2 separate regions of the Homo sapiens genome follow, and region 2 is linked to region 1. The links come from fine-mapping of genetic effects on gene expression. A gene starts in region 1. The other region holds a variant in brackets. All regions are shown on one strand. Distances are between the middles of the regions.

Region 1 (13,220 bases):
CATTGAGTGCAGGGTCTGCAAAATATCTCAAGCACTGACCTTGAATTTTACAATAGCAGTGTTATCCCAGGAGCAATTTGGGGAGGATCAGACTCTTGCAGCCGGAGTCTGAATGACCCCTAACCATAATTTCTAATCTTGTAGCTAATTTGTTAGTCCTACAAAAGCAAACTGGTTCCCAGGCAAGAGGGAGGTCTTTTCAGAAAAAGGCTATTACCAATTTTGTTTCAGAGTCAAACTGTAAACTCATTTCCTTCCCAAGGTTAGTTTGGCCTATGCCCAGGAATGAACAAGGACAGCTTAAAGGTTAGAAGCAAGGTGGGGTCAGTTAGGTGTGGTCTTTTTTTTTTTTTTTTTTTTTTGCTTAGCATTACTTTGGCTATTCAAGGCATTTTGTGGTTTCATACGAATTTTAGGATTTTTTTTTCTATTTCTGTGAAGAACGTCATTGGTATTTTGATAAAGATTACATTGACAGTATATCGCTTTGGGTAGCATAAGCATTTCAACAACATCAATTCTCCCAATCCATGAACGTGGGATATCTCCATTTTTTGTGTGTCCCCTTCAATTTTTTTCATCAGTGTTTTATAGTTTTTATTGTAGAGACCTTTTACTTCTTTGTTGAAGTTTATTCCTAGATTTTTTGTGTGTGTGGCTATTGTTAATGGAATTGATTTCTTGATTTCTTTTTCAGATTGTTTACTATTGGCATATGGAAATGCTACTGATTTTGTATGTTGATTTTTGTATTCTGAAACTTTACTGAATTTATAATTTCTAAGAGTTTTTTTGGTGGATATTTAGGTTTTTCTAAATACAAGATCATATATCAACAAGATATATAAGATCATATATCTTACGTATGATACATAAGATCATATATCTTACGTATGATACGTAAGATCATATATCAAATAAGAACAATTTGACTTCTTTTCAATTTTGATGTACTTTATTTCTTTCTCTTGTCTAATTGCTGTGGCTAGGACTTCAAGTTCTGTGTTGAATACAAGTGATGAAAGTGAGCATCCTTGTCTTGTTCAAGATCTTAGAGGAAAGGCTTTGAGTTTTTTCCCATTCAATGATGCTAGCTTGTTTTGTGTCCTTGTTTGGTGGGTTTGTCATGCATGACCTTTATTATGTTGAGGTATGTTCCTTCAGTATCCAGTTTATTGAGAGTTTTTATCATGAAAGGATGTTGAAATGTATGAAATGCTTTTTCAGCATCTATTGAAATGATCACATGATTCTTGTTCTTGATTCTATCAATGTGATGTATCGAATTTGTTGATTTGCATATGTTGAACCATTCTTGCATTCTGGGATGAATCCCACTTGATCATGGTGAATGATCATTTTAATGTGTGGTTTAATTCTGCTTGCTAATGTTTTGTTGAGGGTTTTTGCATCTGTGCTCATCAGGAATATTGAACTGTAGTTTTCCTTTTTTATTTTGTCTTTGTCTGATTTTGGTATCGGGGTAATGCTGGTCTTGTAGAATGTGTTTTCCTTTTTTATTTTGTCTTTGTCTGGTTTTGGCCTCAGGGTAATGCTGGCCTTGTAGAGTGTGTTTGGAAGTATTCTCTCCTCTTCAGTGTTTTGGAATAGCTGTGGTAGAATTCGTATTGATTGGCATTAGTTCTTCTTTAAATGCTTGCTAGAGTTCAGTAGTGAAGCCATCAGGTCTTAAGCTTTTCTTTGATGGGAGACTTTTATTACAGCCTCTTTCTCATTATTTCTGTTTGGGTTTTCTTTTTCTTCGTGATTCAATCCTGGTAAGTTGTCCGTGTCTAGGAATTAATCCATCTCTTCTAGGTTTTCCAATCTATTGACTTATAGTTGCTTGTAACAATCTCTAATTAGCCTTTAAATTTTTGTGATATCAGTGTAATATCTCCTTTTTTGCCTCTGATTTTATGTATTTGTGTCTTCTCTGTTTTTTTTAGTCTAGCTAAAGGTTTGTTGATTTTAACTTTTCAATAAACCAACTTTTTAATTCATTGATCTTTTTATTGCTTTTTTAGTCTATTTTATTTATTTCTACACTGATCTTATTTCTTTCCTTCTACTAATTTTGGATTTGGTTTGTCTTTTTCTAATTTAAGGTACATCTTTAGATTGTTTATGTGAAGTTTTTCTTTTTTCATGTAGATGTTTATTACTATAAGCTTCCCTCTTACTACTGCTTCTGCTGTATCGCATAGGTTTTGATGTGTTGTGTTTTCATTTTTATTGCTTCAAGACGTTTTAAAATTTCCTTCCTAATTTCATCATTGACTCATTGGTCATTTGGGAGCATGTTATTTTTTATGTAGTTGTATAGTTTCTAGAGTTCTTGTTATTGATTTCTAGTTATATTTCATTGTCGTTAGAAAAGTCCTTGATATGATTTTGAGTTTTATGAATTTGTTAAAACTTGTTTTGTGTTCTATGATACAGTCTACCCTGGAGAATGTACCATGTACTCATGAGAAGAATATGTATTCTGCAGCAGTTGGGTGAAATGTTCTCTAAGTGTCAAGTCCATTTGGTGTAGAATGTAATTCCAGTCTTTCTTTGTTGATTTTGTCTGGATGATCTGTCTGTTATTGAGAGTGGGTGTTGAAATCCACAACCATTAATGTATTGTAGTCTATCTCTTCCTTTAGATCTATTAATATTTGTGTTATGTGTTTAGGTTCTCCAATATTGGTTGCATATATATTTATAATTGTTATATGCTTTTGCTGAATTGACCTCATTATGATTATGTAATGACCTTCTTTATCTCTTATAGTTTTTGACTTGAAATTTATTTTATCTGATATAAGTATAGCTACTCCTGTTCTTTTTGGTTTCTGTTTGCATGGAATATCTTTTTCCATCTCTTCACTTTCTGTGAAGTAGAATGTAAGTAAAATTAAAAGTCAGGTAGGATGTGATACACTCTGAGAGCAGTATAAACTGCTGAAGAGATCACATGAAATCACAATTATATTTGATTCTGGAAATTAGGTAAAGCATCTTGGAAGAGAACAATTTTATCCTAAGACTTACAGAATAAGCAAGATTTCCATAGGTGAAGATAAAAGACAGGCATTTTAAGATATGACTTGAGCCAACACATTGTGTCAGGAAAGTGGGAGTGTGCTTGGGACACAGGATATAGAGTATCACATGGAGTATATGTAGGTAATCAGTGAAAGGTAAGACCAGAAAGGTAGATTGGGGTGGGATCTTGGAGGATGGGGAATCCCAGACAATGATTTACCTTACTTCTTCACCCATTCTTAGGAATTCTTACAGTATGTAAAATATGTACTTAGTTTCTTTCTGTCTCTCCCAACTCAGTTCAACCATGAACGTTCTAAGGGCAGGGGCCTACCATATTCTTTCCTACTCTCAGTAGTCCCCAGTGGTAATCAGCATGCCATTGTTGATTTTGATTGGTAGGCAAGATTTGGTCTGGTGTTTGTCAACTTCATTAATGGATTTGTCTGTTTGTTTTTGATCATTCCAGAAAAGAGAAAGAGCCAGTGGTTGTTGAGACAGTAGAAGAGAAAAAGGAACCTATCCTAGTGTGTCCACCTTTACGAAGCCGAGCATACACACCACCTGAAGATCTCCAGAGTCGTTTGGAATCTTACGTTAAAGAAGTTTTTGGTTCATCTCTTCCTAGTAATTGGCAAGACATCTCCCTGGAAGATAGTCGTCTAAAGTTCAATCTTCTGGCTCATTTAGCTGATGACTTGGGTCATGTAGTCCCTAACTCCAGACTCCACCAGATGTGCAGGGTTAGAGATGTTCTTGATTTCTATAATGTCCCTATTCAAGATAGATCTAAATTTGATGAACTCAGTGCCAGTAATCTGCCCCCCAATTTGAAAATCACTTGGAGTTACTAAGCAATTCGGAAGAGAAACACATTGAAATCACTGTCTTTCCCTGAGCAAGGGGGCTGCTCATTAGATCTTTTGATACTTTACCATGTGAAATACTACCAGAACTGTTCTCTAAACCCACTTTTTCTGTAGAGGAATGTATCATCTTTTTTTTTCTCATATTACAAATGGACAAATAACGGACTTTCTATTTTCATATTTGCTGAAACCATTTTTTAAATGAAATTAGGTCATTATTTATGAAAAGTTTTGAGAGGGCACTGTCAACTTGGGTTTAAGACAGGAGGACATTGCAAGTTCACACCTTTCATAAGCATAAAGTAGTTGCAAGAAAGTATTTTCATCCTGTTAGGATTCATATCTAAGATAGAGTTATGCATTGCACATACACAAATAAACTTTTATTAGATAGATACCTATAAAAGAAACATAAAAGTATGTTGTGTATTACTGACAGTTCTAGATTAATTTCTTTTAGAATTAAAGTAGATTTGTTAAAGTGTATTGTGTGTTGTAAATTTTTTAAGTGAAATTTGCTTGCGCTCTGCCTTGCCATTTCTTTCCAGTAAGTATAATTTTGAAAAAATTAGAATATATGCCAAATATTGAGTGCTGTGACTCTTCCTCATAAGAGATGTGCCAGATTCTATGTCTAATTGCATATTCTCTTCAGAGGAGATGATGCTTATTTTAAACCTTTTTCTCTATAACTTTTAAAAAGTGGTGCTGAGTATTCACTAGAGTGGCAAGTCTTTGTGCTTTAATGCACTCAATTTGTGGAAATTACTTAAATAGCAGGTTATCAGATGGTTCTGAATGACAAAGGTGTTAAATTTGGGATTTTTTTTTCAAGCTTTAGATATGGCTGGAGAGTAATGAGACAGAAGGAATGTCTTATATTGTTCTGACTGCTGACAATTCCTAAAGAAAAGTGATAGAAGGGTTTTTAACAAAATAAGTTGCATTTATTCTCTTTCCCAGGGTTACTCCTTTGAAGAGGGCAAAATTCAGTTGGGAATATAAATTCTGGAATCTTCATGAAGAAAATTAGTTAACAGTATAGACATGCCCTACAAATATCATCCACAGGCACTTCATTCAAGAACTTCAGGTGTCAGAGTGCCTGGAGCTCTGGAGCTTAGACATTAGAGTTGATTCCTTGGGGATTGGTTCCAGGACACCTACTTGGATACCAAAGTCCACAGATGCCCAAGCCCCTTTTATAAAATGATGTAGTATTTGCATATTATGTATGCACATCCTCCCATATACTTTAAATCATCTTTAGATTACTTATACTGAATAGAATGTAAATAGTATTTACAATTGTGAATACAATGTATTTAGTTATGTAAATATGTAAATTTTAAAGTTATGTAAATATGTAGCTATGTAAATAGCTATAAAATAATATTTACAATTGTGAATAGTATGTAAATAGTTGTGAACATAACTATTGTGAATAATATGTTATATGTTATAGTTGTGAATGTAAATAGTATTCACAATTGTGAATACAATGTAAATAGCTTTCACAATTGTGAATACAATGTAAGTAGCTATGTAAATAGTGAATACAATGTAAATAGCTATGTAAATAGTTGTTATGCTGATTAGGGAATAATGAGAAGGAAAAAAAGTATACATATTCAGTACAGATGCAGTCATCTTTTTTTCCCCTCGAACATTTTTGATCCACAATTGGTTGAATCCACAGATGGGGAACACACAGTCTTGGTAAATTTAACCAACAAGGAGGGTAAACGCATCCCAACAGGGAAGGTAAACTGCACATCCATCAGTACCTCTAGAGGGCATCACTGGTTTATAGCTCAATACAGTGACTATATCAGAATAATGGCCTTTAGTTTTCCTGAAAGATTAAATTAGGCTTGCTGTTGTTGAATGAGATAATCAAACATATGATGTAATTTTAAAGGGTTTACATACAGAAGGCCTGCTGTATGTCCTGCTTCTGCTGTGTAAAAGATTCAGCATGGAATCATTGGAATTTTATGTACAGGATTTCATTATCTCATTTTCTATACAATTTTTCCTTCTGATCCAGAGACACGGAAAAACAAAGGGCAAGATGGAAATAAGGGATGAGAAGGTCTATGTGGAAAAACAGTTACAACTGGAGTGGTAACTGCAAAAACCAAGCAGCTTCATGTGATCGTTAGGACAGAAGAAATTTCTCCTTTGTAGCCTAGAGCAATATTCTCAAAATTTAATGCGCATGTTAATCATTTGGGGATCTTTTATTCATTTTTTCATGTGGGGATCTTTTAAAAATGCAAATTCTGATTTGGTAAGTCTGGAGTAGGTCCTGAGCTTCTGCATGCTTCAAAAGCTGATTATGTTTTGAGAACATGGATCTAGATGCTGGTATTGAGGTGGGAGACAAGTACTGCCACCTGAAACAACAGTCTTGGTAAATTTAGCCGACGAGGGTAAACACATCCTAACAGGGAAGGTAAACTGTACGTCCATCAGTACCACTAGAGGGCATCACTGGTTTATAGTTCAATACAGTGAATATATCAGAATAATGGCCTTTAGTTTTCCTGAAAGATTAAATTAGGCTTGCTAACTTGTTTAATGAGATAATCAGACATATGATGTAATTTTAAAGGGTTTACATTTTTAAAAATTTAATGATTGCTACATAAAAAGGGTATCAGTTAACTAATTTTACTTAGATGGAACTTCTGTAAGCTTAGTAGGTATGCTTAAATAAAGCCTGCTAATAAAATAGAGATTCAGACTCAATAGAATGGTTTTACATATGTAATATATGTTTTAAACTGCATAAAATAAACTCCTCCCTCCTTTCTTAACGTGTCATTTTTCTGATTACAAAAGTAGCACGTTCTTTTTAGAAAATTGGGAAGGAAAAAAGCAAAAACAAGAATGAAAAAACAAAACTATCTTGCCGCTCATAATTACTTAACATTTTGGTATATTTCCAAATGAAAACAATTATTTTCCTGTATTTTACAATTACTATGGCATCATGCTCCCCTTCACATTATAAGCATTTCCCCATGTTTTTAAAGACAAGAATAACAAATTTGATTAATAGCATATTATTGTATAATTAGATGTCATGCAATTATTTAACCAATATTCAACTGGATATTTAAATTCTTCCCAGTGTTTTGCTTTTCTGTTCTTTTTAATCCTGCTTTTCTAGTTCTTAGAGAATTGGTCTGCCATAGATCTTTCTACTCAGAAGTAGAAGATACTGTACTGTAAATTTCTTGACCCTAAACCTAAGAATGAACAATTTGGTCCTACTTCTTTGATTCATAATCCCATTAGCATGTATTCTGTGAATCCTAAAACACAAAGTGACAAGGACTTTGAAATTTTCACTAGGTTGTTACACAGTGCAAAAATCCTAAAGCTTTTACTTGAAAAGTTTCCAAATTTAAAAATAGTCTGTAACCTCTGATCCTATAGAATTCCAAAGTTAATCTCAGCTGTACAGTAACAGACTGGAGCAATCATCAAAGTTTTGCTTTCCATCATGAAATACCAAATTCAAACTATGTAACACTGATGTAACAATAATCATATACTGTCCATATTCAAATTTCACCAATGTCCTAGTAATGACCTTTATAGCAATTTCACTTCCAATCCAGGATCCAATCCTGGTTTATTGAGTTGGTCGTTAATTATTGTTTCTTGGTCTCATTTATTCTTCAATAAATTTTTTCAAGTAATTGATTTCATGTAAGTTACCAAATTAATTAGCATAAAATTGTTCATAATATTCCCTAATTAATGTCAGTTGGATCTATAATAATAGGCCCACTTTCATTTTGAGCTATTTGTTATTTGTGTCCTATCTTGTTTTTATTTAATCAATCTAGGTTGTGGCTTATCAATTTTTTAGCTTTGGCTTCATTTTATAATTTTAAAAATTATATTATTCTTCCTTTATCATTCAGTTTGAAATATTTCCTAATTTCCAGTGTGATTTCTTTTTGACTCATGACATAAATATGTTTGATTTTCAAATATTTGGGAGTTTTCTAGATGGCTTAATGTTATTAATTTCTAATTTCATTGAGATATATGATTTCAGTATTTTTACATGTATCGAGATTTTATGGCCTAACTTATGGCCTATCTTGTTGAACATGCCGTGTACATTTGAAGTTGTTGAGGCGATTAGGGTAAGGTCATTATAGTGTTCAAATCTATGCCTTTACTGATTTTTTTCAAGTTTTCTACCAATTGTTAAAAGGGATTTAAACACCTTCACTCATGGTTATGGAATTGTTATTTTTCCTATTTCTCCTTTTAATTCTGTCAATTTTTGCCACATAAATCTTGAAATCCATTATTCGGATTTATGGTTTTTATGATCTTGTCATATAGATATATGATATATATATATTTTATAATCTTAGTCATTACTACTTTAGGTTTCTTATGCTTATTGTTGCATAGTATGTGTTGCGGGAAGTCAGGGACCCCAAATGGAGGGACTGGCTGGAGCCGCGGCAGAGGAACATGAATTGTGAAGATTTCATTTTAATATGGACATGTATCAGTTCCCAAAACTAATACTTTTATAATTTCTTACACCTGTCTTTACTGCAGTCTCTGAACATAAACTGTGAAGATTTCATGGACATTTATCACTTCCCAAATAATACTCTTATAATTTCTTACGCCTGTCTTATTTTAATCTCTTAATCCTCATATCTTGGTAAGCTGAGGATGTACGTCACGTCAGGACCACTGTAATTGTATCTGACTGTACAAATTGATTGCAAAACGTGTGTTTGAACAATATGAAATCAGTGCACTTTGAAAAAGAAAGAATAACCGTGATTTTAGGGAACAAGGGAAGACAACCACAAGGTCTGACTGCCTGTGGGGTCAGGCAGAATAGAGCCATATTTTTCTTCTTGCAGAGAGCTTATAAACAGACGTGTAAGTAGGAGAGATATCGCTAAATTCTTCTTGTAGCAAGGAATATTAAATATTAAGACCCTAGGAAAAGAATTGCATTCCCAGGGGGAGGTCTATAAACGGCCACTCTGGGAGTGTCTGTCTTACGCAGTTGAGATAAGGACTGAAATACACCCTGGTCTCCTGCGGTACCCTCAGGCTTATTAGGATGGGGAAAAAATCCTGCTGTGGTAAATCTGAGGTCAGACCGGTTTTCTGCTCTTGAACCCTGTTTTCTGTTGTTTAAGATGTTTATCAAGACAATACATGCACAGTGGAACATAGACCCTCATCAGTAATTCTAAGTTTGCCCTTTGCCTTGTGATCTTTGCATTGCCCTTTGCCTTGTGATCTTTATTGGCCTCAGAAGCATGTGATCTTGTTCTCCCTTTTGCCCTTTGAAGCATGTGATCTTTGTGACCTACTCCCTGTTCATACACCCCCTCCCCTTTTGAAATCCTTAATAAAAACTTGCTGGTTTTGTGGCTCGGGGCCTCACGGTCCTGCTGATATGTGACATCACCCCCGGAGGCCCAGCTGTAAATTCCTCTCTTTGTACTCTTTCTCTTTATTTCTCAGACCAGCCGACACTTAGGGAAAATAGAACCTACGCTGAAATTTTGGGGGCAGGTTCTCTTGCTAGGTATGTATTTTTTTCATTTACTTACTTCCATTCTTTTAATGTAATTTTTCACCACAATCCAGACTCTCAGTAATCCTTTCCTTGCTTTTGTTTAAAGATTTACTCCAAAAATGTGGCCTATAGTTTTAGTTCAGCAAATACAAATTTGAAAGATTTATTTATGTGTATTTATGACTAGTTTCTAACGACATTATGTTTATAAGATTCATCCAGGTTATTGCATGTAGTTGTAATTCATTTATTTTTATTCTCTAGAAGAAGAATTGCTGGGTCAAAAGTTATTCATATTGTCACATTTATTAGACAATGTCCAATTGCTTTCCAAAGTGGTGGTACCAATTTATATTCCCTTAGTAGGGCTTGAGTCTGAGTGATTCACTTCCTAACCAACTCTTATTTTTGGAATTTTTAATTGTTGCCAACCTTTTAGGTATGAAATACACACCATGATTTTAATTTGCATTTCTTTGATAATGAGATTAAGCCTTTTCCCATAAGCTTATGATTGTGTCCTATTGTCTGTTAAGTACCTGTTTAAGACTTTTTCTCATATTCACCTGAGATTTTTAGACATTACTTTTTTAGGAATATTTTATGTATCCCAGTTAATAATTCTTAATCAGTTGTATCTGTAGCATAAGTCTTGCAAGGTAGTAGCTTAATAGTTTTCAAGTTTTTTATGGAGTATTTGGCTGATCAGACTTCCTTAAAATTAAGTTGAATTTAAGTTTCCTTTAAGTTTGCACTTTTTAAATGCTCTATCACCTCAAAAAAGATCCAGTACTTTTATGGAGATAGTCCTTTTATTGTCATGTAAAATCCTACTAACACTCCGTTCTGTAGCTATTTCAAGAAACCATGTGAATTAGTTGAGGAGGATTAGTAGGAGATTTGGTCCTCCCCAAATTCTGAAAGTGGGGCTTGAGTATTTTATTACTCATTACTGTGATCACATTTGTAGTTTTCATCTTTTGTTGTCTCAGGAAAGAAACCATTTGCAAATGCAGAGCCCTCCAGAAGTTACCTTGAGTATTTTATTGCAGAAGAAAAATATGCCCTAATGGTGCCAATAGGGGTCAAACAACTTCTATAAAGAAAATTATTAAAATAATGTGAGTAAAATGTAGTGGCAATCCCTAAGAGGGACGGATTTAGAGAGAACAGAAAATGAAGAGGGAAAATAGTGATACATTTATTGGGTTCAATAACTGTTAAAAATTAATAGGAAACTAGAGCAAGAGGTATGTGGTGACCTAGCACTTAAGTTAGCTCTGTTATACTTCCAAAGGCATATTTGAGGTTTTGGCCTTCTGGGCAAGTTTTGGTAGGGTGTCTGTCATTTTCCCTCTACTGCTGGAAAAGAAGGCTCAAGAGGAAGAATCCAGGTACTTTGTATTTTAATCAGGACTATTTATTTGGGCCGATTGGAAATAAGTTAAAATCTCTGCTCTTGAATTAAATCAGAGTTTATTTACCTCAGTGTTTGGAATTTTAGCAGTTCATGAGGACAAATAGTCTTTTTGTTCATTTCATAATCTCAGCTGTAGAGTTGCCCAGAGTGCTCAGATAAGTGTGTCTTTTCATTTTGATTTGCTTAGAAAGGATGTCAGTAGGGACTTGCTATTATGATGATATTGAGCTGAAATTTATATTTCTGAGGAAAATGAAAGGCTATCAGAAGTCATTTGTTAAAATTTCTTTATTCTGTCTTCCCCATCCCCATCAATATTTCTCCCTCTTTTAAAAGACTATTGCCTAGAATTTTATAGAATAAGCCCTCCTATTCTGGGAAACTGTACTGTGGTCCTATTTATATTTTGTTTGAAGGGTAATTTTCTTTTAATGTAAGACTAATGCCATGTTAGAATTAGATTCTGTGAAAATATTTCTTGAAGCTTTGAATATATGTTATACCTATTTATGCAATTCAGGAATGCTTTCTGGTAGTGAAATGTAATGTTAAAAAATACCAAAAAAAGCAAGTATAAGTTTGAGCTAAAGTTAATGACTTTCTAATTGACTTATTTCTGTTTGGGCACGCTGGTTGATGCATGTGATATTTGTATAGAAATAAATTGAATGGATAATATTGTTAGGGGTGGTGAATATCTGAGTTACTGGTGGCAAATCTGTATGGGTCTGCAGCAATCTCATTTCTTGCCTCCTCGAAAGAAAGAATTCAACTGAGGGGCATAAGGCAGTAAAAGAGACCAAGGCAAGTTTCAGAGCAGGAGCAGAAGTTTATTAAAAAGCTTTAGAACAGGAAAGAAAGGAAAACACACTTGGGAGAGACCCAAGCAGGCATCTTGGAGGTCAAGTGCCTCGTTCATCCTTGAACCTAGGATTTTATATGCTGGCCTACTTCTGGCATCTTGCACCCCTTTCCCTTCATCCTTCCCTTAAGGGTTATGGGGAGCCACCCACATGCATGGTGCCCTGCTTGTGCTTGGGATGTGGGCATGCACAGTGTGTTTACTGGAGTTTTATGCATGCTTATCTGAGGCTTTCTTTCAAATTCTGGTGGAATGCCCCTGGAAGGTCATACTCTGCCATTTTGACTCTTAATGTGCATGTTTGAGCTCATTCGCCCAGTTCCTGAAAGCTGCCAATTATCAATTTCAGGTGTTTTTATCAGTTGAGAAACTGCCTCTCCCTGGTGCTGGCTGTGACCAATTGTTATTTTAGAGAAGCAGAGTGACCATCACCTGATAGTCACCTGACATTCTGGTGGGTGGGGGCAACCCTCTCCTGCCCCACTCATGCATGACTAGCTACCTACTGTAACAATATGTAGAAGAAATACTATACCTTAAGCTTATTTAGAGTAGGAACTGCATCTTATCTGTCAGTGACTATGACATGTAGACTCTTGATAAATTCTTTTTGAAGTACTAATCAATTTGACTAAGAGTTGGAAATGTAGATTCCATTTCTGACTCTCATGTATTTCTGTATGATCTTAAGTACTCAATTTCTTGATTACAAGAAAACAAATGAAATACGGTACTTGGAAGCTATAGTATCACTTATTTTTAAGCTTCTCAGGAAACATATTCAATGTTTACTCACCACTGAATTATCATTCTCAGGACTTCTCTCTCTGTAGGCTCATTCTTGTCAGCATGTATTTATGTCTGTGTCTGTCTCATCTCTCATCTATATATACACATATATGCAACACAAACACTGTTGCATATATTTTCTTTTACTTTCAATCTGTCTTTTTTTGACAATGTGTTTCTGAAAAATAACCACTTGCTTTTTCAATTAGTTTGACAATCTGTCTTCTTTTTTATTTTTATGTATGTATTTATTTTAGAGATAGGATTTCAGCTCTTTCACCCAAGGTGGAGTCAGCTCTTTCACCCAGTGGCATGATCACAGCTCACTGCATCCTTGACCTCTTGGGCTCAAGCAATTCTTCTGCCTCAGCCTCTCAAGCAGCTGGGACTACAAGTTTGCCCCACCACACCCAGCTAATTTTTACTTTTTTTTTGTAGAGATGGGATCTCACTATGTTGCCCAGGCTGGTCTCAACCTCCTGGGATCAACCGGTCCTCATACCTCAGCCTCCCAAAGTGCTAGGATTACAGGCATGAGTCACCACGCCTGGCCTGTGTCTTCTAATTGGAGTGTTTGATCTGTTTGTATTTAACGTAATTATTGATATGTGTGGGTTTAAACTCCCATTTCCATTCATCCCATTTATTATTTGCTCCTTT
Region 2 (16,653 bases), 39 kb after region 1:
AGGTCTGCATCTGCCCTCTGGAGTTCAACCCTCACTTAGTGGCACAGTATGATACCCTAGGAGTGACCGGTGCTCCTGGAGGCAGCTGATACATACCTTGCACCTGACTGGGGTGCCTAAAGGGCCAGTTGAGGGATATGAGGAGGATGAACAGTTTCTGAGGAAGATGTACCATGTGCTGCTGGAGGTGGATGTGTTGGAGGGCACCCTGCAGTGCCCAGAGTCTAGACGTGTGTTCTGCCTCAGTCGCAGGGTTCCCAATATGCTGCTGAATGATGAGGAAACTGAGAGTTGATTGTGCCAAGTGCCAGTTTTCCTTCTCATGATCGTGTGAATTTTTGTTGATGTATATCCTGTTTCCTAATTCTGCTACATGTATCCCCAACCCTTGGCCCAATGGCACACCAAACACACCATATTCTTGAGCTCGATAGTATATGTTTTTTCTCATTAAAGTTTCAAACAAAAAAAAAGTAAATAAAAAAATAAAAATAAAAAAGAGGTTGAAGGGAGGTGCCTTGCCGCCTTCACCATGTGAGGATGCAGAAACAAGATGCTATCTATGGAGCCGAGAGTAGCCCTTACCAGAGACCATATCTGCTAGTTCCTTGATCTTAGACCTCCCAGGCTCCAGAACTGTGAGAAATACATTTCTATCGTAAATTACCCCGTCTAAGGCATTTCATTATAGCAGCAGAGACCAACAAAGACAGAAATAGGCACAGAGAGATAGGGTGTGTTAATAACAAAACCTAAAAATGGGAAAGCAGCTTTGGAACTGCATAATAAATAAAGGATGGAAAGAGTTTACAGGTCCACTGCCATGAAAGGAGCCTTAGGGGCAACTCAGGTGAGGGTTCAGAAGAAGGTGAGGTTGAAGAAGCTGTAGAAATAGCCTCCATCTTCTTAGAGATTACCTAAGTGGTTGTGATCAAAATGTTGATAATACAGAAATACAGATGGTAAAGGCCATTCTGATGAAGTCTCAGACAAAAATGAAGGACACGTTATTGGCAACTGAGGACTAGATGATCTCTGTTACAAAGGGGCAAAAGAACTTGGCCAAATCATGTTCATGTTCTAGAAGAAATCTCTAAGCAAAATGTTGAGGATTTTGACTACTTATAATAAAATGTGGAAGCAGAACTTAAAGATTTGGAAAATTCTCAGCCTGGTCATATTGTATAGAGTGGAAAGCTGTGTTCAAGAGAGAACACCAAGGGTGTGGCTAAGTAACCGTTTGATAAGGAGATTAGTACGGTGAGGCAGAAATCAGGTGCTATTTATCAAGATAATGAAAGAATGACACCAAAGGCCTTTCAGTGTTTATTTGTGCTGTCCTTCCTATCATAGGCACAGACTGCCAAGGCTGGGGGCAACATATCTGTATCAAAAGAGGAAGCTTGGAAACCGGTAGGACCTTGACGCCAGGTGGCCTCAAATCTCCACTTCCTGCATTCTGCTGCAATGCTCCTCACCTGCCCCAGGTATGGTTCACGCAGGCCCATGTGCAGTTTGGGCCACTCTCTGGAAGGCAATATAGTAAATCTTGGTGGTGTCTGTGCAGTGCTATCTCTACCAAAGTGCAGAGTGCACAAGTCATGAGGGCATGCCTGCCTCCACTTAGATTTCAAAGGATGCCCCAGAAAGCCTCAGAGCCCAGACAGAGAACTATCACAGGAGCAGGACCACCACAGACAGCCCCCACCCCAGTATGGCAATGCCCAGTGAAACCGTGGGAGCAGAGCCACCCCCAAGACCCCAGACTGGTAGAGCCACCAGTGTGCAATTCCAGCCTGGGAGAGCCATAGGCATGTGACTCCAATATGTGAGAAATGCTATATGGGTTTTGCCCAGCAAAGTCATGGCCAGGACTACCCCCCACCCCCCAAGTGTTTAGAAGGTAAAATGTCAAGTCGAAGATTATTCTTGAGCCTTAATATTTGCCCTGTTGGGTTTTACAGTTAGTCAGGATTTATTATCTTTTTCTTCCTTCCTACTTCTACCTTTTGGAAAGGAAATGTCTGCCCTGTGCCTATCCCACCATTGTATTTTCAAAGCATGTAACTTGTTTGATTTCAGAGGCTCACAGCTGAAGGGGAATTTGCCTCAGGATGAGTCACACCTTTGAGTCTCAGTCATATTTGATTTAAATGAGACTTTGGACCTCAGACTTTTGAATTGGTGCTGGAACAAGTTAAGGCCTGGGGAGCTACTGGGATGGAATGAATACATTCTGCATGTGAGAAGAACATACATTTCGGACGGCCAGAAGCAGAACTCTATGGTCTGAATTTTGGTGTTTCCCCCAATTTATATGTTGAAACCTAACCCCCAAAGTAATGGTATTAAGAAGTGGGACCTTTTGGGAAGTGATTAAATCACAGAGGCTCTGCTCTCGTGAATGGGATCAGCCTTAAAAAGGTTGAAGGCAGCGGTTTTGCTCCTTCTGCCATGTGAGGATGCAGCAACAAGGTGCCATCTGTGGAGCAGAGAGCAAACCCTCATCAGACACTAAACCGGCCAGTGCCTTGATCTTGAATTTCTCAGTATTCAGAACTGTGAGAAATAAATTTCTATTACTTATAAATTACTGAATCTATGTTATTTCCTTATAAATAAAGCAGCCAAGGACAGTTACGTGATCCTAGATCACCCATTGCCATAATGTTTTCAGGTGAGACTTACTGGCCTTCAACTCTCAGCTGCCTTCCAAGCCCATCACTATGAGAATATGGAAACTTCCAGAAACCTTTCACAGAACAGGAGAGCAAAAAGAGACTTGCGTGTGCTATCTTTGAATCTCTATTTGTCTAAACACACAATGTCCCATTTTACTGTGTTTTCCAGAACTCCAAACAGGAAATAGAACAAAAGGTTCCTCCGGGATTTTCAGTTTTTCATAATCCATTCCCACCTTTGGTCAAGGCCTAGACCTTTCTAGGCAGGGTTGCCTTCTTCCCTAGGACAATAAGTCCCAGGTCTTTGCCTTAATGTAATAAAGCTTCAGAAGAACAATAAAATGATTGCTGAGAATTGTAAATGCATTGAGAGATATTATTAAATATTATTCTTGCCTTACAAGTAATAGGTCAGGGAGTAGCCAGATATGGCAAAAATTAAAAAGATGCTACTATAGTGAATTCTTATAATTTTATATTGCCTTTATATGCATGTATACTCAAATGTATCCACTTTGAGTATAAGTTGAACTTTCTCATCCCAGAAGCAGGACTTAGTCACCCTTGACAACAATTTCTAGTTCTCTGTCTCTTTCAACTTCCTCACTGTGGCTGATCCAGATATCTGCTTATACAAATGCCTTTTTGTGACCACCTCCTTAGGGGACAGCTAGATACAACTTACTTGACTTGCCCACTGACCCCCACACCTCATACGAACTGTGCAGATATGCTCAGCAACCACCTCTCAGTTGCCTGTGACCTCTTGGAACTATTGCCTGCTTGTTCTAAACCCATCAATTAAAACTCCCCTCGGGAAACCTGCTTGGGTAACACCCTGAACCCCAATAAAGGCTTTGGACCAAAGGTCCCTCTCTCTCTCTTGCTCCCCACATGCTGGTTGAGTGCATATCCTGGAAAGCTCTCCCCTTCCCGTTGGTGCTCTTTCCCTCTGTTCTCTGATCTGTAAGTAATACGCTCTTCTGTTATTTCGTGTGTTTTGCTAAGTTGCCTCTTCTGTGTCTCACCTGACCAACACACCCAAATCTACCTTCTACCTTCTTTCTCCATCAGGGCTGTCCTAGAGAGGGGCTGTCTTGGTAGGAATAAACTGGACACAGGTCAGACAAGAGCCCCAAAGGCATCTCCCAGTATAAACAAGTTTTCTGTGAGAGGAACACCCTGTCGTGGGTTGGACACCCAGGCATTAGGCTGTCTGCTGATACAGAAGTGTCCCATGAAAGACACACTATAAACATTCATGCCCAAATCCCTGGAGCCCTGGCAGGGTAGGGCAAGATTTTTTACCCATGTTCCTGAGAGAGACCTCAAGACCAAATTAGAGGAAAATACAATAGCTACCTAACGAGTAACTTTTTTGAATATTGTTTAGAGCCAGCCTTCTCATTACATAGGTAAGTAACAGAGCCTTGAATTTTTTTTTTTTTTTGCAATTAATTTAATGGCAGGACTGGGATTAGAATTCGGGGATTTATCCCTATATTTTCTCCATTCCATTATATTGAGATTTTCTCCCATAGTCTATTAAACTCTGTTCTCTGGAAATTTGAAATAAATTTTGGTCATACACCGTCATTGTTTTTATCTTAGGACAGCTAGAAACACTTCAATTTCTATATTTACCCTTCTTATGGAGAACATTTTTTAGGTTCCATTAATGACTAGGAACATTCTTGGATCTATCACAAAAAGAGTCATAGTTTCCATTGATTGTGCTGTAGCTATGTGGAAACTTCATGGAATCCCTAAGTATACCTGGTGACTTTAAACCATCAGAATAGTCTTCATTGTGGCCAGGCATAGTGGCTCATGCCTGTAATCCCAGCACTTTGGGAGACCAAGGCGGGCGGATCACGAGGTCAGCAGATCGAGACCATCCTGGCCAACACGGTGAAACCACGTCTTTATTAAAAATACAAAAAATTAGCTGGGCATGGTAGCAGGTGCCTGTAGTCCCAGCTACTCAGGAGGCTGAGGCAGAAGAATGGTGTGAACCCCAGAGGCAGAGCTTGCCGTGAACTGAGGTGGCGCCACTGCACTCCAGCCTGGGTGACAGAGCGAGACTCCACCTCAAAAAAAAAAAAAAAAAAAAAAAAAAAAAAGAATAGGCTTCATTGCAAAATCATTTATTTTTGCTACCATTTCCCCTCTCCTTATCCATGACTTAAGCAATCAGATGTTCCTAAATTTTAACCTTTTTGTCAGTAATTCTAGATTTTTTAAAAAGATACTTTAAAAGATTATAATGGGCACAATAATATACTTCCAAGATTGCAATCTATAAAGTAAAATTTCCCTGATAAGAGATGTTACATGACACATGGTATAAATTAATTTGATACTAAAATTTATGTTAGGAAAAAGAAGACCTTTTTGCTAAGCATGGCAGGTAGTCAGGAGCAGTTCAGTGTGGTAGGTTATAACAAGAGTCCTGAAATACTTCCTGGGATTCAAAAATGAAAAATAATATTCTAGGATAACTGGAAGATTAATTTTAGTTGTGAATAATCATTGATAAGTGTTATTGAAGACCAATCTACATTGTGACCAAATGAGGGTAAAACATAGAGCTTACTTATGCCTTAGCCAGAAATCATTTTTTCCTTCACTATACAATTGAAATCTCTCATTTAAAGTAGTATTTTCATACTGACATATTTAAAACTAGCCAGTTATTTCCTCCATGAGCATGCTATTCATAACATTTCTTAGGTTTGTCAATCAGCCATTGGCAAATGAGGTAAGATAGGGACAATGTTTCATTATTTCATTCTAATTAAAACTGTTGGCTCTAAACCCCCTAGTCACAGCTACTGCATCCAAGTAAATAAAAAAGATGATGCATTAGTGGATACAGGCTTGAGTTAAAAATAATTGTCATTTCAAAAACTTTCCCCTTTCTATAGATTTGGGCACTAGTCTCAAAGTACATTCCAAAGAGAAAATTCATAAATTTCCCAGTCTCCATTAATCCCCTCCCAACTCAACCTCTAAAATCCCTCAAGTAATAATCACTGGGTTTGGAGGCCAGAATCCAGCAGATAAGGACTGTTTTCTAAGTCCAAACTAATCTGTCATTAGTGATGTAAATACTGATCAATGTTCAAAAACTAGCATATGATTTCTGAGGCCTCACTTTGTTGTTTGGCTTGATTATATAACTTTCTTCCTTCCAAACTCATCTTCCCAGTACTCCAGCCATTTGAATGTTTTGAATTCATTCAGTGCATATTTATTGAGCACCCTCAATGAGCCAGGAATAGTTCCAGGTGATTGGATACTTTAAGGAATAAAACAGTAAAAAAAAAATGCCTGCCCTCATGAAGCTTTTATTATATTGCAGTCCCACAAAGGGGATATATCTATAAATAAACTTGTCCTTCTTTCTAGAAGGCACTTCTATACTTCTTTATCCAGTGAGTCCTTACCCAGGTGTCAAGCTCCACTCATAGGTACCACTTCCAGGAATCTTTCCTGCTATGTGTTAGGTGCCCCTTCTGAGTATTCCTAGGATTTTATTTTTGGAAGTGCACTTACCACATTCCATTAGAATTGCCTGTTTACTTTTTCTATCTTTTCAGCTACACCAGGGGTCAGCAAACTTTTGCTATAAAGGGGTAGAAAGTAAATATTTTAGGATCATAGGCTGTATTAGTCAGGGTTTTCCAAAGAAACTGAAACTATTTATGCAGGCTGATCCCTAATCTGAAAATCTGAAATCTGAAATCTGAAATGCTCCAAAATATATGGTCTCTATGGCAATCATCGACTGCCATTGTAAAGTGAAAGGAGCTGTAAATAGCACATAAACAAAAACTTTATCTATTAAAACAGATAGAGACTGGATTTTGTCTGCAGACTGTAGTTTGCCAACCCCTGAACTAGTCTACGAATTTCTTGAGCAGGGACAGGGTCCTGGTTAATTCAAACATCCTTGGACATAATGGGAACTTAATGAATTATTGTTGAATGAATATGGAACTGATACCATAATAGCTATGTGATTGCCATTATGGATATGGATGGTGGCAAATTCACAGTCATCTTGGTTACTATCAGGAACTATATCTCACAATAGTTAAGGATGGCTGCTAATGATTACAAGTATGCTTGATTATGTCATCTGGATGGCCATATGTGTTTTTCTTCAGTTTGCATGTGCATATATTTTAGTTAAGCAAATATGCACATATATAGCTGTGTCATATTTTAAGTTTTCCTATAATTTTTCCAAATGGAATAATACAAATACACCAAATAAAACAGAGGTTTATTTAAAATAATTTGTCAATGTTAGGGTATCCAGGCACTCTAAATTCTTCTTCAATTGTTTGCAAGGAAAATCAAGTAACAGTCATTAAGCTCTAAAATATGTCAACTACTTTATACCTTAACCTCTATTTTACAGTTCCTGATCCTTCTGGAGAATGTGGAAAATATTTTCTCCTGAAAACACCCCTGACAGTTATTTGTAGGGTATCCTTAGGGATGTCTCATGTGTTAATCAATAAGTTCTATCTGCTTCCCTGTGACGCTGACCATTCATTTTTTCTTTTTCTAGCTCTGCTTGCTCCAGGCCTTCTTCAGTGATATGACCAAAGTTGAGGAATGTCCTCTCACTTTTGGTGTGTGTGTGTGTGGCTCATACCTACTACTGACAACTGCGAATACCTCCCTTGTATATGGTGAACACCTTACGTCCAGTGCTTTGCCAGTGTCCTAAATTCTCATTGGCTATATCCCTTGATGGTCTATGGAGTACCATGTTCCCTGTTCTGGGGAGCAGGGTGGAGAAGGCCTGGATGTACTTCTTAGCTTGTACTTCGCTTTGCCACCTGGGTCATCATGACTTGCCTACCTTTTTCTGTGTTTCTCATAGATTCTTAGTAAAAACAACACTTTCTATTTCTGCTGCACCTCTCCTCCACTTTACCTCCTATGTTTGTATCTGGTTCTGGAAATTAGTCATGAATATGGGGTCCTTGCTATCTCATCAATGTACCTCTCATCCAGTATGAGAACTGTGTACCAAAATACCTCCCTCTTCTTCTAGACATCCCAATATGTCTTTGAGTTCCAAGATCAACCGCTTTTTTCCAAGTCTTATGTTTCACTTTTATTCCATTTTATCATATTACTCCCATTTTACAAATTAGAAGGCTGAAGCACATGGAAAGTTAAGTAATTTGTTTGATGTAAGTCGCACAGAGTAATGAAGTAAG[G/C]GATCTAATCTAAATCTGAGTCCAGAGACCAGTGATCTTCCAACTATAGCTTACTGGCTGCAAGAGATACAAAAACAAAAAGGCAAGGCCCCTCCCTTAAGGAATTCACAGCCTAAAGCAGAGTCTACAATCTGTAAGTTAGCTCATTTATACATTTTGACAATGGCCTTTGGCTGATGGGATTAACAATGGGACAATGAAAATTTCAGTAGTTCCAGTTCTGGGTAGCATTTTTGTCTGGGTAAGCTTTTGCTGTCCTTTGGAAAAGTGGTTTCCAGATTAGGATACACATTAGAAATCCCTGTTAAAAATACATATGCAAGAACCTTATCTCAGACCTATCAAGTCAGAACTTTCAGGTGCAGGACCCAGGAATCTTTACTTAACAGGCTCCTCAGGTGAGTCTTATGCCACCAGCTCACATTGCTCTTAAAATTGATATTTGGGACTTGCTCTCTTAGACACTGTTCCAGAGGAAACTGTCCAGAGACCACTGACTTAGAGGAGGAGACACAGAAGGAACTAAAGCGAAGGAGATTAGAACCAGGAGTTGAGTGAGTCAAGAGAAAAGGCTTAGAAACCTGAGCTATGTGATGAAATATTAGACTCCATTGTGAACACCTGAACTAAAAAGCAGACTAGAGAGACTGGGCTCTGCCCAGACCCTTCGGCAGCATCTGCTGGTAGCCCTGTCGCTGGGGACTTAAAAACAGGAGTAGTGGATGGTTTCTGTGCAGACAATTTCAACTTTCAATAGGCTGGGTTGTTTTAAATGATATAAATTAGCAAGCAACAGGCAAGCATCCAGTGCTTCTAAGTTGGCTTCTAAGTTCAGTGAGCCATTCTGCTTTAGTCTGCCTCCTGCAGCTGAACTCACGGTGAGTATCTGGGGAGTCAGGGATGTCATTGCTTTGTAGAGAGGGTCTGCTTTCTGATACATCTGCCTGCAGGGCATCTGGAAAGGCTGCTTTCATCTTGCTGTGTTTGTTTCTGTCATCCCAGAGGAAAACACAGTTCTCTGAGGGACGAGTAATCATCATCTCAGGTGGTTCATTGCTCTGAAATACAGATTTTTGTCAGATGCATCAACCTAACTAAGAGATTGCTGGATGACTATTTTGGAGGCAACATGCACAGCTGGGCTTCCAGAGTAGTAAGGGTCCAGCTAATAAGAATTTTATAGAGATTGTTTCTTGACTTTCAAAACACTTTTCCTGCGATTTAGTGCACGGGAGTAGGGGGAGGTAAGCTGGGGGCGGTATTTCTACCTGGACTGAGAGATGAAGTGCCAGTGATGACAAAAGCAACAGGCTCCTAAAGAAAACAAGAGTTTTGTTTCTTGATTAGTAATTTTAATCTGCATTGGTGACCTTCTGTTCTTTTATTCTTTGTTTTCTGCCCCTCTTTTTGGCGCTCTACCAGTTTTTGACTTCTCTTTCTTCTAATAGGCCACTGTCTCCCAGTGATGTAGACTTGATCCCTTTTACTGTGGTCAGGGACCTCCAGACTCCATAACATTGCTTTCATGTTCAGCCTCCAATAAGGCTGTCTCCATATTGCTAAGGGCTCCCTCCCCAACCACTTCAAGGCGAATCCTGTGGAAGGCAGCAAGGTTAATGCTGCTTGTTCTCCACTGCTTTGTATCCTTTGTTTCCTGAATACCCTGCAGTGTGAGGAGTCCTGGCTTCCAGTGCAAAAAAGTGGGGAAGCTGGGAAAATATATTCAATCAGATCTTGAAGCATCTCCCATCTTCAGAAGTAGAATATAAACAGTCAAGTTGGCTTCTATTCTTTCTTATTCATCGTCTCTCAGAAATTTTACTCAATTTTTTTCTTTTATGCATATCATTTATTCTTTCATGTATTCATCAAATATTTATTAAGCAGCCACTTGCTTAGTAAATATGTGTCATGCCCTATTCTAAGAACTGAAGAACACAGTGTTGAACAGGGTAGAATTTCTGTCCTTGAGGAATTTACAATCTGGAATAGTGCTATCAAATAGAATATTCTCCAATGGCAGAAATGTTCCGTATCTACATTGTTCAATATAGTAGCCACTAGTTACATGTGATTATTGAGCAATTAAATTGTGGTTAGTGTGGCTGAGGAACTAGATTTTTGTTTTATTTATTTTTAATTAATTACATTTAATTAGCTATGTATGGCTAGTGACTACTGTATTTGTATAGAGCAGAAAATGGATAGTCAGATAAAGAAGCAGACTTTCACAATATCATATGTTAAGTTTGTAATGAGATAGTTGTTTAGACTAGTAAATAGATCAGGGTTAAAGGCTTTGATTGAATCAGATTATGAAAGGTGCCAAACACAAAGGACCGTCCAAGTCTAACACTTACAGATTCAGCTGGTAAAGAAATAATGAACTAATTTTAGATTCAGCCAGATTATTACTTATATACATAGTGAAGAAAAGAGAAGCTAAAGATGTCAGCCCTATGAGTCCTCATCCCACACACCAAAAGGATGGCACTGAAACAAAAGGGGTCAGATGGCTTCAGCAAGAGTTGTGATACACCCTATTGCTGGCCAGTCAATTCCAGACTGCAGCTAAATGGCTATAGAGCTGCAGTTCTGCCCTACGGAAGCATAGGGGTTAAGTTGGAAGTCTCATGTTCCTCTGGAACCTGGGAGTTATATCAGAAAACCGCCTCATGGCAGCATCCCACAAGATAGAGGCAGATGAGAAAACAACCTCGCGAAGCCTTCTCTGAAGATTTCCTCCCTTGCCATGTTCCTAGGAGGATCACAGGGCATTCCACCCAGATTTAGGTCATATGGCAGTCCAAGCTTTGCCTGTGCATCCCATGTAGACACATGTAGAGTCTCTAGGGCTCCATGGTAGAGCCACTCCCTTGGAAATGGTCTTAAGTGCTATGCCAAAGGATTTAGATTCTACCCTTAAATGAATCCGGGAGCTACTGGAAGTTTAAAGTAGAAGAGTAATTTGACTTTTGAGTTTTGCAGAGATCAGTCTGACAATATTGTAGAGACTAAAAAAAAAAAACTGTAAAAAGGAAGAAAGATTTGGGAAAAAGGACGAGAGTTTGTGGGAATGAAGAGTGTACAGTTAAAATCATTTATGAACACATGGTATGTGAAGGGCTCTGTATACAGTAAAGGTGACAAATAAATCAAACAGAATTCTGCCCTCAAGAAAATTTCAGATTAATAGGAGAGAGAAAACACAACATAAATGATTATAAGGCTCAATATATTAAGTGCTTTGAGAGGCATGCTGGAGGGCCCAGAGGAAGGAGAGACCTCTTCAGATGGGTGTCCCTTATACAGTAGGTAGTTTATTGATGATTATGACAATGAAGTGTTGGACAGGAGAAGCCTTAAGGATCTTATAAATTAACACTCTGGAATCTATGAGGAGCTAGCTCTGAGAAGCAATAAGCCTTATCAACTAACAAGGGTATGAATCCATGTATATGGATTAGTTGGGATCCAACTGAGAATAAGGTAATACAAATGTAATAGAAAAGTAGGAAAAAGTCATATAGATTAAGCATGGGGAGAGATGGCAAGGAGAAGGTTTGAAGGCTTTGGATTTTGAGGCCAGCCAGTGTCAACTTGTTCTTTTTTTATTTTTTTTATGAGACAGCGTCTTGCTCTGTCACCCAGGCTGGAGTGTAGTGGCGTGATCTTGGCTCACTGCAACCTCCACCTCCCGGGTTCAAGTGATTCTTCTGCCTCAGCCTCCTGAGTAGCTGGGACTACAGGTGCATGCCACCACACCCGGCTAATTTTTGTATTTTTAGAAGAGATGAGGTTTCACCATATTGTCCAGGCTGGTCTCGAACTCCAGACCTCGTGATTTGCCTGCCTCGGCCTCTAAAAGTGCTGGGATTACAGGCATGAGCCACCGCGCCCGGCTCAACTCATTCTTTATCATTGGACATATTAATAGATGGGTTCTCACTTCCCACTTCTCATCCCCTCATTTTGGCATTTCCACTTTACTTTGTCATCCTTCTTCTACCTAAAGGAGGCCAGTTGATATCCATTGCCTTAAAAAAAGGTAACACATCAGAAAGAGGGAAAAAATCTTCTTTTGGTTTTTGAGTTATAAAAATCCTAATGGCTGATATGCACTCCAGAAGTCATAAATGAGTATGTTTTGTTTGGTTCATATCTTGTTTTGTTGCCCACTGAATACCTTTAGACTGGGCTAAAGACTAGGTTGTCTTTAGTTCTTTACAGTTCTGTATCTCATTTATTCCTGGCCCTTATCTATAAATTTATATTACCTGCTTGGGTCCCCATGGGTATCTGAATTTGGAGCCTCTGGCATACATTGTACAGCAGGTTCAGAAGAATGCACAATAATATATAAGCTTCCCGAGTCTTTCAGCATTATAGAAGTCACAGAAAACTTACTTGGATTCCAAGTAATTTCTATTTTGAGTCTTTGTTCCTCCAGGTGGCAGAGATATAATCTTAGAACAAATACTTAAAATGGAATTTACTTGGAATCTAGAAAAATAGAAAAAAATACATTTGTGCACGCATGAGTTTGTGGGCTATAATTCTACTATTTCACTATCTGTCCTGCCAAAGTATGCAACAGGGTGTATACTTAACTAAAAGGTTCAGAGTCAGGAAAAATGAAGATGAAATTAAAAATAAAGTATTGAGAAAGAAAAAAAGGAGGGGTAGGTTAAGAGAAGAGTGAGTTTTCATATTTCTACTCTCATTTGGGGAAAATAGTTAAGGTTTATGTGTTGGGTCACCTGGTATGAGTTAAGATTCTTGCTTCACCATTGACTACATAGGCAAACTTGGCTAAATCATTTAACTCACTGAGCTCTATTTCCTAATTTGTAATGTAAGCATAGTAATATGTTTTTATTCCTACAGGGTTGTCATTCCCACAGGGAATAATGACCTTGAAAGAGCCTTGAAAAGTGAAAAAGCTTTACTATGGGAATTAATATTATCCAGTAGCTAGCTTTTAGTAAATGCTTAATAATTGCTGTTAGAGAAAAATAAATTAAGGGGAGAATAGAATTGCCCAGTCTCAAGTATGTCTTTATCAGCAACGTGAGAAAAGACTGATACAGACTGTATGTCTCGTGGCTGTTTAATGTGCATGCTCGGAGTCCTAAAGACAGTCACTGTCCTAACATACAATTCAACAAGTGATTCAAGGACAGAAACATGATGGAATCATTGTGTTTCTTACAGACTGAAAATCAGGTGTCTACAAACAAATACCCCAGCTTTAAGGAGAATTGATAGTAGTGGGCTGAGAATAAAAAAGTACCCACACTCATGGGAAAAGACTGATTTTTCTGTAGCTAAACTAATAAATCCTACAACTGCTCTCCTTAGTTTACAGTGTGCTGATGCTATCAATTCACCAGAAAGGAATCTATACACGAAAATGTATAATATGTTTTTTCAGTTTAGATAACAAGATCATTTTTTCCGGGTTAGATATATTTCTGTTGGTAAAGGTTAAGTGGGATTATATTGAAAGATCTCTTTTTGGGACTAGGGGCCTCAAAATTTGGAGATTTCTGTACCTTGACATTAGTAGCCTTCACTAATATAGAGTAGCAGAGACAACACAGAGAGGTGGTGAGTGATGTGGGATACCAGACCTTCATATAACAGGGTGAGATTGATTCCATCACATAGTCTAGGGGCATAGCCAGCCTGGTTTTAGGAAGGAGTTTGATGCTGGGATTTTCTCTGTTGGTAGACTCTCATATATGACCAAAAGGAAACCCCAGACTGTTGGGATATCCTAGAGGAATTTCTCACTCAGTAGAACTTTTTAGAAAAAGTAAAAGTCATATGCTTTCCCAAAGTTTGAATCATAGTCTGTTGGCCAGTAAAAAAAAAGCATGCAACTAAGTCAGGAAACTTGGCACCTTTTCTCTCTTGACCATGATATGACCTTACAGAAGTCAATCATCCCGAGTTTGTGAAATGCAAAGTTGAACTAGTTGACTCTTTGATTGCAAGTAATAGTTATCAACTCAAGCTAATGTAAACAAAGGGATTCTATTATAAGGATGCCAGAGTGTCTCAAAGAACTCAAGTACAGTTGACCTTCAGGAGTGGTTGGAACCAGGAATTTGAAATCTAGTAAGATTACTTTCTCTGCCTTTCATCTTTATATCTACTTTATTCATTCATAACTTCTCTCTCCCCCTCTCTCCTTCCCCCTCTCCTGGTCCCCATCTCCCCCTCCCCCTCCCCCTGCCCCTCCCCATCTCCCCCTCCTCCTCCCCATCTCTCCCTCCCATTCCCCTTCCCCCTCCCCCTCCCACTCTCCCCCCCATCTCCCCCTCCCCCTCTCCCTGTCCCCGTCTCCCCCGTTCCCCCCCTCTCCCCGTCCCCTTCCTCTTCCCCCTCCCCTTCCCTCTTCCCCTCCCCATCTCTCCCTCCCCCTCCCCTTCCCCCCCTTCCCCTCCTCTCCCTCTCCCCCTCCCCTCAAACTCCCACATCTTTTCCCTAAGACTGATTTTCTGGGATTATCTGGATACAGCTTCAGCTTCTGAATTTTATGGATTCAATTACATGTGAGTCCAGGGCCAGGGTAAGGAAAGAGAGGTTCAAGGGTGCAAAATATCAGGAAGACCTTAGAGGCTTGGTCTCTCAGTGACATGAAAGTAAACTTTGGTCCTCTAGGTGCCTCTCTTGCCTCACCTTAGTCTTGACCCTGAGAGAGTGACTATTGATCTCTGGGTCTCAATTCTAAGCTAACAAGGTGAAAACATCATTGCCACATCTTGAATCTGAAATTCAGCTCTAATCCAATCAGCAATGGCACCAGGGCTGATGCCACAAGGTACATACATAGCTCTTGAGTGATCATAGCTCTGGGCTTTAGGAGACTATTCTCAGATAAAAAGGAACTACAAGTTGGGAAGAAAGCCTCAAATCTTCAATCACACATGTACTATATAATATTTATTTCCATTACATTTTTGGTGCTAATTTATTCTGCCCCTTATAAACCTTATAACTCCTAAACATGTACATTGTATAATTTATTATATCAATGTTGAAAGGATCCCTAAAGTTTTCATACACAGTTACTACCCTTGAGAGGCTCATTTGGGAGGATAAAACTAGATACAGGATGCATGCTGAAGAGTGGTTATAGTAAGCAATTAAAATAATTAACTATAAAAATAAAAGCTGTATTGGGCTAATGCATTGTACAGAAGTTTAGAGAAGGAGAATAATAGCAAGGAGAGGAAGAATCAATGATGTCTTCTTAAAGATATCTTTTTGGGGGACAAAGAGGACAGCAGATACAGAGGCTTACAGGAAGGAATCATATCAGAAAATATTAATACCTAGAGAACATTGAAATGTTGCAGGGGACACCAGACACTCTTTTTAATATTACATGTCCCATCTCCCTAACATGAATGAAAGACTCATGAAGTTGGAAATGATGCCACATTCCGTCAAGAACTTTCCCAATATTGAGAAAATATATTCATAATCATTCTATTTATTCAAAATTAATGTATTGACCATGAATTTAAGTGTGTGTAAAATGGCCAGTAGTGCTGTTTGTTAATGAGTTTATCAGGTGGGAGTGTGTACTTTGCAGAAAATCACTTTTTAAAAGTAAATGCAAAAAGACGTTTTCCCCTTGATCCTCTTCTACCTCTGATGACTAATCTCTTATCTACAGTAGAGAATTGGGCATTGCTGTAGTTGGGATGTTTGACCCCTCCAAATCTCACGTTGAATTTGATCCCTACTCTTGGAGGTGAGGCCTCTTGGGAGGTATTTGGGTCATGGGGGCAAATCTCTCCTGAATGTTTTGTTGAGGTCCTTGTGGTAATGAGTGCATTCTCCCACTCTTAGTTCCTCTGAGAGCTGGTTGTTAGCAAGAGCCTGGCATCTTCCTGCCCTCTTTCTCTTGCTTCCTCTCCTCTCATGTGATGGCTGTACATGACGGCTCCCCTTCTCCTTCTACCATGAGTGGAAGCCGCCTGAAGCCCACATCAAGAGCAGATGCTGGAGCCATGCTTCTTGTACAGCCTGCAGAATCATAAGCCCCAAGTAAACCTCTTTTCTTTATAAATTACCCAGCCTCAAGTATTCCCTGATAGCATACACAACAAACTAAGACAGGCATCAATTGCTCTTTTCCTCCACCTGCACTACTGGAGCCTATTTATTTCCACAGAAGTTTTTCTGCACCCAAATACAAACCCCAAAGCCTTTATTTTGAATTATCCCCTAAATAAAATTAAGGACCCCTTGGAGAGTCAAGCTTTTAGGGGGACACCTATTACTGCTATTTCTGTGAAGATATTGTTGAAAAATGGTTCAGATGTATATGCCAAAGTCTCATGTGAGAAATATCTTTTAGAGCTAAAGATCTTTTTGGGAAGGGCCTCACTTTTTCCTTTCCCCTAAGGAACTGATAATTTTTTCTTTGAGAATAGTTAGAACAACATAACTGACCAGGCAGCCCTTTTTCCTTTGGCTATCAGTAGATTGGCACCAAACTTACAACCCACAAAATGCCCTTCTTTTCATGTTCCAGGTTTTCTGTGATAAATACTTGTAATCCTAGTCCATATTTTCCCAAATCTTATTTTATTTAATTTTACTCTTTAACTGTTTTACTCTTTGTCAGTAAACAGATTCAAATCTTTTGTGGAATGGGGTACGGAGGAAAAAAGAAAGGAAGGAAGGGAGGGAGGGAAGAAGACCCCATT

Evidence for each region. PIP is the estimated chance that this variant, and not a neighbour inherited with it, causes the effect.
Region 2: its variant is fine-mapped to the expression of BAAT in prefrontal cortex (BrainSeq, PIP 0.95).

The regions. Positions count from the first base shown.
Region 1 is chr9:101,381,133-101,394,352 of GRCh38, reverse strand. BAAT (bile acid-CoA:amino acid N-acyltransferase) reads left to right here and starts at 9,347. Exons shown (of 4, transcript NM_001701.4): 1 at 9,347-9,498. MRPL50 (mitochondrial ribosomal protein L50) reads left to right here. Exons shown (of 2, transcript NM_019051.3): 2 at 3,503-6,720. The coding sequence ends at 3,887.
Region 2 is chr9:101,340,108-101,356,760 of GRCh38, reverse strand. It overlaps the pseudogene TRMT112P4. Among named protein-coding and RNA genes, the nearest start is that of BAAT, 37 kb to the left of the region's middle. RefSeq lists an enhancer at 1,940-2,234. The variant G/C (reference allele first, on the strand shown) is at 7,925.